Linked DNA regions of Homo sapiens. The protein of the gene in region 1 interacts with the protein of each later gene in a pairwise test. Each region holds a gene or a part of one and is shown in the gene's direction. Other genes may lie near its edges.

Region 1 (7,746 bases):
TGGATATATACTTCACATATCATACAATTCACCTATTTAAAGCATACAATTGAATGGGTCTTAGTATGTTCACAGAGTTGTGCAACTGTTGCCACTATCAATTTTAGAACATTTTCATCGCATAAAAAAGAAACTCTGGGGCCGGGCACAGTGGCTCACGCCTGTAATCCCAGCACTTTGGGAGGCTGAGGCAGGCGGATCACCTGAGGTTGGGAGTTCGAGACCAGCGTGACCAACATGGAGAAACCCCATCTCTACTAAAAATACAAAATTAGCTGGGTGTGGTGGCGCATGCCTGTAATCCCAGCTACATGGGAGGCTGAGGCAGGAGAATAACTTGAACCCAGGAGGCAGAGGTTGCAGTGAGCCGAGATCGCACCATTGCACTCCAGCCTGGGCAACAAGAGCGAAACTCTGTAAGAAGAAAAGAAAAAGGCCAGGCACAGTGGCTCATGCCTGTAATCCCAGCACTTTGGGAGGCTGAGGTGGGCAGATTACCTGAGGTCAGGAATTCAAGACCAGCCTGGACAACATGGTGAAACCTCGTCTCTACAAAAATACAAAAATTCGTAGGGCATGATGGCGGATAGCATGTAATCCCAGCTACTCAGGAAGCTGAAGCGGAAGAATCGCTTGAACCTGGGGGGCAGAAGTTGCAGTGAGCTGAGATCATGCCATTGCACTCCAGCCTGGGCGACAGAGCGAGACTCCCTCTCAAAATAAAAGGAAACTCCATAACCACTAGTAGTCATTTCCCATTTCTCCTCCCCTCCCCTATGTCTATTCCACTTCTCTGCCCCAGGCAATCACTTATCTACCTTCTGTCTCTATATATTTGTATATTCTGAACACATTTTATATTCCTCTACATGTGTTATTTCTTTTCTTACACAACCCAGTGAGGTAGGTACCATTGCAATCTCCACTATACAGAAGTGGAAACTGAGTCACGAAGAGGTTAAGTACCCTGACCAAAGTTATATGGCTAGTAAGTAGCTCAGCCAGGCTTTATTTATTTATTTATTTGAGACAGAGTCTCACTCCATCACCCAGGCCAGAATGCAGTGGTGCAATCTTGGCTCGCTGTATCCTCTGCCTCCTGGGTTCAACTGATTCTCATGCCTCAGCCTGCCAAGTAGCTGGGACTACAGGCGTTCACCACCATGCCCGGCTAATTTTTCGTATTTTTGGTAGAGATGGGGTTTCATTATGTTGGCCAGTCTGGTGTCGAACTCCTGCCTTCAACTGATCCACCCACCCTGGCCTCCCAAAGTGCTGGGATTATAGGGGTGAGCCACCGCACCCGGCCTCAGCCAAGGTTTAAACCCAGAATTTAAATTCTAGGTGAATAGCTATGTTTTCTTTCCTGGGAATGCAAAATTTGATATTGATCTCTAGACAACGAATTAAGAAATAGATATAGCTTTGGCGATGTAATGATGTCATTCACTATGTGCAGAATTCATGCTTTTAATCCACTATGAAGGAGACAAAGGTCCTTAGAATCTAACATGATCATGATGTATAAGATACATGCAGAAATACTGATAGTAGATACCGCTCTATGCAGGAGACACAGCATCACACAGTTCAGGGGTGGAAGAGCACCTGGAAAGTATGAGCAATCAAGGATTTTTTTCTGTAGTAGTTAGCTTCTCAGTTGGCACTTAGAGAATGTGGCAGAAATTGCGAGCTGGGGTAATATGTGTTCCAGGTTAGGAAACAAAGGCCTAGAGGTAGGAATGAACAGGTTGTTTCTCCGATCCAGTGTGGCTTGAATGTAACATTCTCAGTCAGTGTATCACTTCCCATTTCGTGACATTAGCTACCGTTTATTTCTGTCTTTTAACGTCAAGCTCTTGACAGGTATTATTTCTAATCTTTAAGACAACCCTACAGGGTAGATATCATTAGCCTTGATATAGACAAGAAGATTGAGGTTCTTGAGGGGTCATAAGGCAAGTAAGTGATAGAGCCAAGATTTGAATAAGTGTCTTTCTGATGTCACATTCCTGCCCTTTCTACTTTATTGTGCTGTCTTACTTAAGGGAGATGGAAAGTTAGGTTGGTGCCATACTGAGAAAAGCCTTGATGGCTGAGGCGAAAAGTTTTTACTTACCTTGGCAGGTAGAGACATGATAGAGACAAAACTCAAGCTGAACTGTGGAAATACTACTATAATCATTTGGGCAGTAGAAATGACAGTCTAAATTAGGAAGGCAGTGGTGCAATCAGACAAAAGGGAAGTACATATAAGAAATATGCATCAGTGGTATTTAGAGACTTCATAACTGGGTGGGAGCAAGGCGTACAGAGGAGTATATAATATTTCTGAAACTTTGGTTCTCTTAGTTCTCAGAAGAGTGTTCTGTGACGGCCATGAACAGAAATACAGAGGAAACGAGGAGGAGCTGGCTTTGTGAGACTGAGGGAGGAAAAATGATAACCTTAATATGGGAGCTGAAGGTGCTGGTGACTTCTGTATCTATGTGAAGATGGGTAACGGGTAATTGGAGATTTAGTCTAGGGCCAAGATCCAGTTATCCAAAGAGTGGTGAGAGTCAAGGCCACAGTAATCAACAAAGAATATAAAGAAAAATGCAATCTTAGTGTCTACTAAAAAGTAGGAGAAACAAGGGAGCCATATTGAATACCTATTACCGGCCTAACACTGCGGAGACGTCTGGGAAGGGCCACAAACCTTTCCACAGTAAACCTCCAATCTTGTTCCAGAGATTAATTACTCTCATGAAACTATATGCAACTAGTACAAAACTTGATAGATTCAGGGCCAATCTGTAGGGTAAACACAAGAGTAACGGGATATTAGAAAAGAAAGACATTGATGTGCTTGGGGAATTTAGGAGGCGAGGAGAAGACAGACCAACACAAGGTATAAGAAGTAGAAATTGTGCATAGGCTGATACCAGGGTAACCCTGCTCTGAGCACAGTGACAGAACTTTGGTGTCTTCTCTGTTGTCAAGGGGATAGCATGGGGCTGAAAAAGTATAAACAGGCTTTGGGGCAAAGCAGATCCCAAAGCTTACAGCTCCCTTTTATTGATGGTATAAAATTGGGCAAATTACTTAGCTTTTTCAGTACTTGTTTCTTTTTCTTTCTTTCTTTCTTTTTTTTTATTTTTTTGAGATGGAGTCTCACTCTGTTGCCCAGGCTGGAGTGCAGTGGTGCGATCCCGGCTCACTGCAACCTCCGCCTCGCAGGTTCAAGCGATACTCCTGCCTCCGCCTCCCGAGTAGCTGGGATTACAGGCACCCGCCACCACGCCCGGCTAATTTTTGTATTTTTAGTAGAGACGGGGTTTCACCATCTTGGCCAGGCTGGTCTTGTACTCCTGACCTCGTGATCCACCCGCCTCGGCCCCGCAAAGTGCTGAGATTACAGGCGTGAGCCACTGTGACCGGCCAGTACGTGTTTCTTCGTTTTAAAAAAGTGAGTATATTTAATAAGGTGGTTGTTTACATTCAGTAAAATAGCGCATGAAAAGCATCTAACACAGGGCTTTAAACAGCAAGACTGGGCAAAACCTAAATAACATTTTCCTTATGTTGTCTTTTTTGCTACCACTTGCACCATACGATTACCCACATTTCCTGTCCCCTCCAGTGCAGCTTCCTGGAGACACTTCACACGTATGCAGGACTTCTGTACATCCTACTCAGGCACAGCTGTAGGCCCTACAAAGAGGGACCATTTACTGCCTCCTGCTGTCATTGATATTCGACAAACATTTATTGAGCACCTACAATGTCCTAGTTACTGTGCTAGGCCATTTTGGGGTATAGAGAGATAAAACAGATCTTAAAGTCTTCACGACACTTAAAGATGAGAAACAGTCTCTGGGTAAATAACTATCGGAGTTCAGAAGGTGGACAGAAGTGGTGGGCGGCGAGTCTGTGTGCAGTGAGCACCTAGCGGAAGATGGCATTATTTGCAGAAGAGAGGTCCTTTAAGCCAAGTCTTGATAGATGATTTCACCACGCGGAGATTGGGAAACGAGGACAAAGATATGAGAAGATATGTTGGCCACAGAGAGCCTCTCAAAGCACTGTTAAAGCAAAGCCAATACTTAATGGGAGGAAACTCCGTTTTACTTGCGTGGAGTCTTAAGTCATTAGATGCATGCTAAACAGAACTGTAACCCTCGCGAATAAAACGGCCACAGTGACAGCAGTGGGTAACGGCAGAGCTGCAACTACTCTGACAGGGGTGACGACTTATTTGGACGACAGTTGGTGAAACATTGTAAACTCTCAGAAGCTGCCGTTTCCAGACTTTGAGTTCATTCTTGTCGAATCCCCAGCTTGTTTTCTCAGCCCGGGGTGAAATGCGCAGCCAAAAGGCCCAATGAGCGTCAAAGCGAAAGGGCAGGGGTGGTCTCTTCTGCGGATATACCTTGGCTCCTCCCAAGTCCTACGAGTTTAAACTTCGACGCACCAAACATGGCTTCTTCGCGGTTCTGCTCCTTGTTTTATTTCGCTCCCACCTTTCGGCCACACTCAACATGGCCCTAACCGAAGGTTGGCATGCCTGTGGCACTGTCTCGGGACAGTTCTCGCGAGGTTTGCCTGGGCCCGACTGCTCCCGCCCTGCCTCGCGCCGCCGCCACAGCCGCTGCCGCTGGCGCCGCTCCTCCTCCGTGTCAGTTGTTGGGCTGTAATGGCGACTGGGCCGCCCCTGACGAAGTGACTCCCGGGCCGGGGAGCGGGGCCAGACCTGCGCCAGAGAGAACTGCAGGGAGCCGCAGCTCGGGGGGTGGCTTGCCCTGAGGGAGGGGAGGCAGCCTTTCCGCCTTGTCTTCCTTCCCAGCGGACCGGCGGATCCCCGGAGCCGGTGCGAGGAGGGCACCCGGTGCGTCCCCGGAGCGGGGAGGCCAGGCCGGGCAGCCCTGGGGCCGGTCGGGGCGGCGTCACTGCACCCTCCGCCAGGCTCCGCGGGATGCACCGTGGTAGCCGAGGGCGGAGGCGACACTCTCAGGTGAGCTCCTGTAGGACCTGGCTGGGACCGCGGAGTCTCGCTCAGCCTCAACTGTCTCTGTCCGCGGTCCCGGGTCCCCGGTGGCGGCAAGAGAGGCGGGGCCGGGCGCGGAGAGTCTTGGCCCTGCTTGGCGTCCCCCTCGGGGAACCTCCCTGGGTTCTGAGGCTTTTCGGGGACCTAGGTTTCGGGTCCCACCAGTGCCTGCTGAAGACGGAATTTCCTTCCTTACGTGCCAGTGTCCTCCCGCCTCCTCCACCCCTCCTCTAGCCTGCAGAGGTAAGATACCTCTAGCCTTTGCTGCCCGGAGAAGTGTCCCTTCTTCATCTGGCGATCAGGCGTATTTGGGGAGATTCCGGGGACTGGCTCCAGTGGCAGGGATGATCAGTTTCTGTTCCTTTTCAGTGGGGATCACATTCTCAAGTATAGGGAAAACTTTGATCTACTCTAGTCTAGCGGCTGCTGAAGGTAGTTTATTCACAGATAATTTGGGGAAAGATTTAAAAGGCTTTATGTTTTGGAAGTTGTCAGTATTTTCCTCTGCCTTTTAAATGCAGCTCAACATGCTAAGTAATATTTAGCTAATGTCACAAGATATGAATTGGAATTTGCCTGGATTTTAAATATTCAGATAGAAAGTTGCACATAGGCATAGATTTTAATGTTTTAATGCAGTAGCAAATCCTTCATATGGGAAAAAACAGGTTGTCAGAAATAGTGATCAATATCCATGTACTCCACCTGATTGTTTTGTTTTGATGGTGATCCTTGTTTTGAATTTGGGGAAGTCGTTATTGTTGCCATGTTAACGATACCTCCTGCCCTGTATTTGAAGAGTTTTAAAAGAAAGACTATCTTTGGCAGAGCTAGTAACAATCTGAAAAGTTCTGTAGAAACAATGATAAAATACTAAAAGTTGCCCTCCATTCTGAAAATTTCTTCGTTTAATATATTGTTTTTAAACAAGGAAATGCACTGCTAATGACATGGAATTGTGACTTTGAGGGATTGTTAGACCCATGCTGGAAGTTGCTTCAAAGCCATGGGCGTATAATAATTAGTTTCGGTGTGCTAAATTGACAAATTTTATTTAATGTAATGAAATAAATCTGAATCATTTGAACTGTCAGTGCATTAAATTTAAGATACTGTAATCTGAAAATAAACTTCAAGCTAGAATACATTGTATATGTGGATAAATACATGTGTATCTCTGTATCTCTTCATCCTCAGTAGCAAAATTTTGTGTATGTAGAGATGGCAAGTTGTATATGTAAAAAATTTCATACGTATGTGAACATATTTCTTTGATTTTCTGAGATAAATTGGTGTGTGTGTCATGTAAGAGCGTTAATACTTAAACAGCCAACCTTCTGTGGGGCAATCAATTTATGAATTATAAAGTTTTTGGATTTTTTCCTTCTGCTTCTGATTGTCAGTCTTTTGCCCATTTTATAACACTTCTACCATATATGAGCAGAAGAAAGGAGATGAAGTACTGCTATAATCAATTTTATTTGTTAAATTGCTATAATTTATAGTGGGAGCAAAAAAGAAGTCTAAAATAACTGACATCAGTTTTTGGTGTGCTTCTATATACATTATTTTATTTAGTTTTCACAGTGATCTTGTGAAGTAGGTATGGCAGATATCCTTATTTTGCAGTCGTGGAAACTGACACACAAGGAAGATCATTTATGTGAATGCCTCTCATTTCTGCAGATAATGTGGAATTATTTTTATTTTAAACTAAATATTAATATAGGTGCTCTGGCATTTGGTGTTATTTTAAAATATTAAAAAATTATTCTATTTTTGTTCCTTTTTACATGCCACTTGCCCCTTATGCTGATGATCGTCAGTTCTTTAAAAACATTAGTATTTTTATAACGTTTTGTTAATTATTGACAAGTCATGAATTATGATGGATCACTTACTTCTTTATGTATATACTTTTTGCTTGAACAAGATTATTAAAGTGTAGTTCATTTATTATCTTTCACTTTGGATACTCAGTTCTGTCATCTTTATTCTTTCAGTCATTTATACTCTTAGTTATGTAAAACAAACATTCAAGCCACATGATCAGTAACATAACTGAAAAGTAGTAATATCTTGATGATTTTATTGTTGAGACAACTGATGATTTAAAAAGTTAATTCTCTGCATATAATTGTGATTGTTATTTTTGCAACATGAGGCAAATTTTAGTGTTATAGTGTAAAAAAATCATCAGATTGCATAGTATTTTTTTCTGTATTGATTTGTTGTTGTTGTTGTTCATTGTTATCATAAGTGTGATTTTACATTTACTTGTGGTTATTTTGAGTTATTCTTTGCCTTTCTCATCTGGTCTGTAAGTTCCATGATGGCAGAGATCCTTTAATCACTATTATGCACCCAGTGCCTAGCATATGGTAACATAGTCAATAAATACTAATTGAAGAAATTGACTAAAGAATAGTCCCAGAATAATATTTTAAATGCAAAACAAAACAAAAGACTAGTTCTTAGTTCCTAAGCACACCTCAACTCTTGGGAATATATTCCAGAGATATGCTCAGATTTGCTGGGTAGCAAGGGAATGACAGCCTGGGATTAAAAAGCCACTGGGAATAAGCCACAGTGGAAACTTCATTTACTATTTTAATGATTTGCCTAGGTGCTCTGGCAACAGGTTACGGTAATTTAAAGAAAATATAAACTTTAAGACCCTAACCTGTTATACTAGTACTATAATTATAGCCTTGTAA
Region 2 (7,274 bases), on another chromosome or scaffold:
ATTTGAGGTAACATTTGAATCTAAAAGAGGCTATATGAAAGAGGTTATAATAAAAATGATTTTTGACTAAAAAATTGTTGGCCTAAGATAATTCAGTAGCAGGGCTGAATAATGGGATGACTCAAAATCAGTAAGCTCAAAGGCAATTTCAAAGAAATCTTTATGTTTAGCAAGAAGACCAAGATGACAAGATGCGCCAGGAGACTTGGCCAGAGGACCTCCAGGCTGACAAAGTTTCCCCGAGGAAGTCAGATTGGAAAAGTGTCCTCAGGTTCAAGGAAACCTGGGTGTGCACCGGGTGAATGAGAGTGGCAGACAGAAGGAAACAGCAAGGCCTCTGAGGTAGGAGGGACAGCGTTTTTGAATGTGAAATTTATTCCCTGATACATGTTTTTAAAAATGAATCTTGCTGCCCTTAGAAAATGAACCCCCGAACAAGGTAAGGTCGAGCTGGCCCCTCGTGTCATCCGACTTTGCGTTGTGGCCCTGCCTGCAGAAACGTGTGCTCTGCTACAGCCCTGGGAGGAGGGGCCGGGCTCCCAACTCCTGCCCCGCTTCTAGCACATGCTGTGCTTGGCCACTTCTCTGCCTCTTAGTTTAACAGCAGCACTGGGCAAGGTTTGCCCTCTGCACACCAGACCGGCTTCCCAAGAACCGGGGAAGAGGAGAGGGCATGCCTGGGGCCTGAGCTTAGTGGGCCGGGTGGAGGCAGGAGGTACTGCATGGAGGAGCGTGGACAGTGGCATGCAGGAGGCCAGTCATTCTGCGGTTTTAGCTGGAGGTTTGTTTTTGGTAGTTTGTAGAATCATCAGATTTGATGATGAAACTTTTTTTCCATAAATGTTAAATTTTCAGACACTTGTATTTTTTTTTTCCTTTTTTTTTTTTGAGACTGAGTCACTGTCGCCCAGGCTGGAGTGCAGTGGTACTAGCTCGGCTCACTGCAACCTCTGCCTCCCAGGTTCAAGCGATTCTCCTGCCTCAGCCTCCTGAGTAGCTGGGATTACAGATGTGTTTCACCATGCCCGGCGAATTTTTTTTGTATTTTTAGTAGACACGGGATCTCACCGTGTTGGCCAGGCTGGTCTTGAACTCCTGACCTATGGTGATCCGCACCCCTCCCCGCCCCCCCCGCGGCCCAGCCTCCCAAAGTGCTGGGATTACAGGCATGAGCCACTGTACCCAGCCCTGTATTTTCTTTAAAAACCAATTTTGGGCCGGGCACGGTGGCTCACGCCTGTAATCCCAGCACTTTGGGAGGCCGAGGCAGGCGGATCACGAGGTCAGGAGATCGAGACCATCCTGGCTAACATGGTGAAAACCCATCTCTACTAAAAATACAGAAAAAAAATGAGCTGGGTGCGATGGTGGGTGCCTGCAGTCCCAGCTACTCGGGAGGCTGAGGCAGGAGAATGGCGTGAACCCAGGAGGCGGAGCTTGCAGTGAGCCCAGATCACGCCCCTGCACTCCAGCCTGGGTGACAGAGCGAGACTCCGTCTCAAAAACAACAACAACAACGAAAAAACGATTTTGGCATGTTTTGTAAGTTGCCAGACTATTGGATATACCTCTTAATCATACTTTGTTTGAAATCCTTTGTGGTTTCTAAAGCACTAGTAGCTTTCTGAAAGGAAAATTTTTAATGAATGAAGCATGCTTCATCCTGCACATCCCCTCCTGCCCCAGCACCCCTACTGCCCATGCGCCTCTCCTGCCCCAGCACCCCTACTGCCCCAGTGCCAGGCCTTTTCTAGCAGCTCTCATGGGTTCATCCCTGCTGCGGGCATTGCTCCACCAAGGGGCAGTGCTCTCCCTGCCGGTAAGTGTTGGAACTTCACGTTTCCCTCTAGTTTTCTCTTTACATTTTAACATACACTATTATGTGTCAATATATTAATTATATATTAATTACATTTATAGAGGTTAGGTATATATGGCAGATCATATCTGAGCGTGAATTACATTCTCCAATATTTTTATTTGTCATGATTTATTGCAGGGTTCACTTATTTGATCTACCCCAACTTAACACACATTTCCAAGAAAATATCCATCACACTAGAAAGAAAGAAAGAGGAAGGAAGGAAGGGAGGGAGGGAGAGAAGGAGAAAGGAAGAAAGGGAAGGAAAATGGAATGGAGGAAGGGAAAAATGGAAGGAGGAAGGAAGGAAGGGAAAGAATGAAGAAAGCCATTTGTTCCTGCAAACCTAAACCTCTTTGTAGTAAGTTCTGGCAGAAGGTGTGTTTCTGGAGTTAAACTACAGGCTTGGAAATGGAATTTCTTAGCCTAATTTCTAAATTAGAACTGCTTATGCAAATTAACACTCCGTACATTTCAACAAGCAGTTGGCTGATTTCTTCTGTCCACTCCACCTGCAGATGCAGAGGTGGCCCCATCCTGTGATGTGCCACCACATCCCTTTTCAGTGAAGGGCTTTGTTGGCTGCTGTGGGCATTCTCATGGCCTCTCCAGGGATGGCCTCCACTGTAGAGACCTATGTCACCAAGGCCAGGCCCTCTCAGGGGGCTCCATCCAACGACCATTCTGCCTCAGGGTAAGAGGCCCGGCCCTCTCAGCCTGAGTCCATTCTGGCTCCAGAGCTCCCTGAGAGCTTGCCTGGCAAGTTACTCTTGCAATTCTAGCTTCCAGCAGGCGTTGATTTCTGGGGCACTTTTGATAAACTCCTGGCAGGAAACTCAATCTCTGGGGGTCAGAGTCCACTTCCTGGGGAGCCCAATCTGTGACCCCTAGGAGTGGGGACCATGGAAGCACTTGGCTCTCCAGCATGTGCTGAATAGGGGGCGCTGCCTGCAATGTCCACGTGGAAACCTGGCTGGGAGAATGCCTGTGTGCTCTGCATGGGGATGTAAAGGTGTGAGCAAACCTTCTTCAGAGAGGGGATGTTCAATGCGAAATTTGAACATTGGGACCTGAAAAACTGATGGGCTGATGGGGTCTGCCCATGATTGGCAGCCTTCATAGAATCACGAGGGAGGAGCACAGGCCACCCTAGACAGGAGGGGTCCCCTACTGACAGGGAGGTGCTGTCGGGGCAGCAGGCACGTGCAGGAAAACGGAAAAGCAGAGTAATTGAATGTAAATCATGCAACTCCACTACAGTGGCTAGAAGCCTGGATGGGCAACTTGGCTGAGTGATGTTGGGCAAGTTATTTAATATCAGTATTCTCAGTTTTCTCATCTGTAAAGGGGATTAAATACTTCCTTCCCTTACAGGGCTGCCCTGGTCTTAAGTAATGCCCACAGAGAGCTTAGCATTGTTCTTGGCAAGTCACTAGTACTCAGTAAATACTATTTTTATTAAGAAGGTAAGATTCACAGGACTTAGTGTCTTAACTAGATGTTGAGAGTAAGGAGAAGAGAGAATACTTCTCGGATGATTGTTCAGTTTCTGATGAATGTCTGTTCCCCTTTCAAAACCTAATTCAGATGTCACTTCCTCCTCAAAGCTCTCGCCCCGCGCCGAGCTACTGTGATGTATTTTTATGACCTGGCAGCTTTTTTCTCATATCCCTGTTAGCGGTATGTGGTAAGAACATGAGACACAGAATCAGAAACCATGGATTTCTGGTCTTGACTCCACTACCACTCAGAGGAACCTCACGGTGGATGCCGTAAGTGTTTACACTGAAAAGGATTTTCACGAAAACCTGCATTTTCATTTCGTTCACAAGAGAATTATGAGACTAGAAAAACAACAATTCTTAGTATACCACAGACTGTGGTGCCTAGGAATAACAGACAAGCTTTAACTCACACGATGAGCATCTTTATTTAGCTCTGCTTTTAGATATCTGCATGATAAAGATGAGTGATCCAACGTTAGAAATCATCTGGACATTAAAACTGAATTGTAGGCAGGCGTGGTGGCTCACACCTGTAATCCCAGCACTTACGGAGACCAAGGCGGGCAGATTGCTTGAGCTCAGGAGTTTGTGAGACTAGCCTGGGCAACATAGTAAGACCCCTATCTCTACAAAAAATATAAAAATTAGCTAGGCATCATGGCCTGTGCCTGTAGTCCTAGCTATTGAGGAAACTGATGCAGGAGGATCATTTGAGCTCAGGAGTTTGAGACCATTCTGGGCAATACGGTGAAACCCTGTCTCTACAAAAAAATGCAAAGATTAGCTAGGCATGATGGCACATGCCTGTGGTCCCAGCTACTCGGGAGGCTGAGGCAGGAGGATTGCAGGAGGTTTGCTTGAGCCGGGGAGGTCGAGTCTGCAGTGAACTGAGATTGCATCACTGCACTACAGCCTGGGTGACAGAGTAAGACCCTATCTCAAAAAAAAGAACTAATTGTAACAAACTATCTTTCAAATTATATCAAAACAGTGATTCATAAATTCCATGTTGCCCAGAGATCATGAGGAGCTCTTCTATGATTTGACAGTGCAATTACTGAAGGGGAAGACACCATGCAAATACATGGTAAAAATATTCAAATTATTACTGATTTGACACAAAATATTGATGTAAATAACATAAAACTGTAATATGCCATTATGATGACATTAATGAAAAATTGGTTAATGAATGTCATTGAAAGAGCATGTACATCACTAAATGTTCTTAGTCACTGAAAGTGTGAAATAGCCTCTAAACTCATATGTGGAAAAAGAACTTGAAAAAGGTTTCCAGAAATGTGACAATTCTAGTACTTTCATGACATTTTAAAAAAGGGATTGTAAAGACTGATGAAACCCTTAAAACCTCTCAAGAATTAAAAATCATTTTTGATCAACAGAGTAAACTGATTTTTTATCTCTGTTGAAAGATATTTTTAAAATCATTGTCCTATGGAAAAGTCATATAGAACGTTTGCTGTTTAATGTAGCACAGATGTATCAAAAAGCCATGCCAGGCAGTTATAGATATCTTAGTTTTCTGGATTTTGTGACGTTTGTGGTATTTGTCAGATTTTTAAAATTTGTGATTTGTTGGGATTTGTTCCTCATTCACAGGTAATTTTATATACTTTTGTATTCACTTTCGAAAAGAAGGCAACTCTAAATTTTATGAACTTCAAGTGCTATAAAACAATTACCACAGTAAATTTTGAAAAATTCACCCCAAAAAGAAACCTTGTATCCATTGGCAGTAACTCCCTATGCTCCGCCATTCCTCTCAGCTCCCTGTCTGGCAACCACTTCCTGTCTCTTCAGAGTTGCCTCTTCTGGACATTACATATAAACGGAATTATACACTATGTGGCCTTTTATGACTGGCTTCTTTCACTTAGCATAATGTTTTCAAGAGTCATCTGTGTTGTAGCATTTGTCAGTACTTCATTTATTTTTGTTTCCTAACAATACTCCATTGTAGGGATTGACCACACTTTATCCATTCATTGGTTGATGGACATTTGGGTTGTTTCCACTTTTTCTGCTGTTGTGAATAACAGTGCTAAGCACATTCATATGCAGTGTTTGTGTAGATATATAATATGCTTTATTTTCTCTTGAGTACATAAAAGTGGAGCCTCTGAGTAATATAATAACTCTATGTTTGGTGTTTTGAAGAATTGCTAAATTGTTTTCCAAAGCAGCTGCACCATTTTATATCCCTACCAGCAATGCATGAAGCTTCCAGTTTCTCCACATCATCACGAATACTCCTTATTCTCTCTCTTTTTAGATATAGACATTCTGGCAGGTGTGACATTGTATCTCTTGTGGTTTAGATTTGCATTTGGAGCATGTCTTATGTGCACTTAAAAATATTAATATCTATTCTGCTGTTGTTGGGTAAACTGTTCTATAGATGTTGATATGGCTTCGCTGTGTCCCCACTCAAAATCTCATCTTGACTTGTAATCCCCATAATCTCCATGTGTCAAGGGTGGGACCAGGTGGAGGTAATTGGATCATGAGGGTGGTTTTCCCTACTCTGTTTTCATGATAGTGAGTCTCACAAGGTCTGATGGTTTTATAAGCATCTGGCATTTCCCCTGCTTGCACTCAGGCTGTCCTGCCACACTGTGAAGAAGGTGCCTTGCTTCTCCTTTGCCTTCTGCCATGAGTGTAAGTTTCATGAGGCCTCCCCAGCCATGCTGAACTGTGAGTCAATTAAACCTCTTTCCTTTATAAATTACCAAGCTGCGGCTATTTCTTCATAGCAGTGTGAGAACGGACTAATACAGGTGTTTTTTAGGTCTTGTTATTGTGTCGTTCACGTCTTTTATTTCCTTGTTGATCTTACTCTTAGTTGTTCTATCCATCATTGAAAATGGGGCATTGGCCAGGCGTGGTGGCTCACGCCTGTAATCCCAGCACTTTGGGAGGCCAAGACCAGCAGATCACTTGAGGTCAGGGGTTCGAGACCAGCGTGGCTAACATGGAGAACTCCTGTCTCTACTAAAAATACAAAAATTAGTCAGGTGTGGCAGTGCGTGCCCGCCTATAGTCCCATCTACTTGGGAGGCTGAGGCAGGGGAATTGCTTGAACCCTGGAGTCAGAGTTTGCAGTGAGCTGAGATCATGCCACTGCGCTCCAGTCTGGGTGACAGAGTGAGACTCAAAAAAGAAAAAAAAAAAAAAAAAAAAAAAGAAAGAAAATGAGACATTGGATTTGTAAGTTTCTGACAGGTTCATTTTGCCTGCTGCCCAGATAGAGCCGATTTATGAGGACAGGGAAATTGCAATAGAGAAAGAGTTTAATACATGTAGAACTGGCTAAACAAGAGACTGGAGTTTTATTATTACTCAAATCAGCCTCCACAAAAATTTGGAGGCTAGGTCTTTTCAAAGATAGTTTGGTGGGCAGGGGTTTGTGTACTAAGAAACTAAATGTTTCTTGTGTACTAAGTCAGCTTCTGGGTGGGGGCCAGAGGACCAGTTGAGCCAAGAATTCAAGAGGTACAGGTTCAAGTAGGGCCATCTGGTTGTCAGAAATGCAAAAGCCTGGAAAGTCATCTCAAATGTTAGGTTCTACAATAGTCAAGTTATTTATAGTAATTGGGAAAGTTGCAAATCTTGTGACCTCTGTAGAAAATAGGTGGTAATCTTTACACCTATATCTTAGTAGAATTCAGGCCCCTCACTTCCTCCTAACCTGGTAGCCTTTCATTAGTTTTACAAAGGCAGTTTAATTTTGGGGGGCAGGGCTATTATCATCTAAACTATAAACTATAATCGTTTGTCCCAAAGTTAGCTTGGCCCATGCCCAGGAATGACCAAGGGCAATTTGGAGATTAAAGTCAAGATGGAGTTGGTTAGATCAGATCTCTTTCACTGTTATAATTTTCTCACTG

What was found. Proteins that work in one complex are often made in the same cells at the same time.
Region 2: the proteins of CEP350 (region 1) and CEP43 interact in a two-hybrid assay, tested with the Homo sapiens proteins (one study listed by BioGRID).

Annotation. Positions count from the first base shown.
Region 1 is NC_000001.11:179,950,147-179,957,892, forward strand, and holds the start of CEP350 (centrosome-associated protein 350), read left to right. Parts: upstream 1-4,663; 5' UTR 4,664-4,957; coding exon of another isoform or gene 4,958-4,996; intron 4,997-5,075; exon of another isoform or gene 5,076-5,272; intron 5,273-7,746. UniProt on the Homo sapiens protein: Plays an essential role in centriole growth by stabilizing a procentriolar seed composed of at least, SASS6 and CPAP. Required for anchoring microtubules to the centrosomes and for the integrity of the microtubule network.
Region 2 is NC_000006.12:167,044,235-167,051,508, forward strand, and holds part of CEP43 (centrosomal protein 43), read left to right. Parts: 3' UTR 1-7,274. UniProt on the Homo sapiens protein: Required for anchoring microtubules to the centrosomes. Required for ciliation.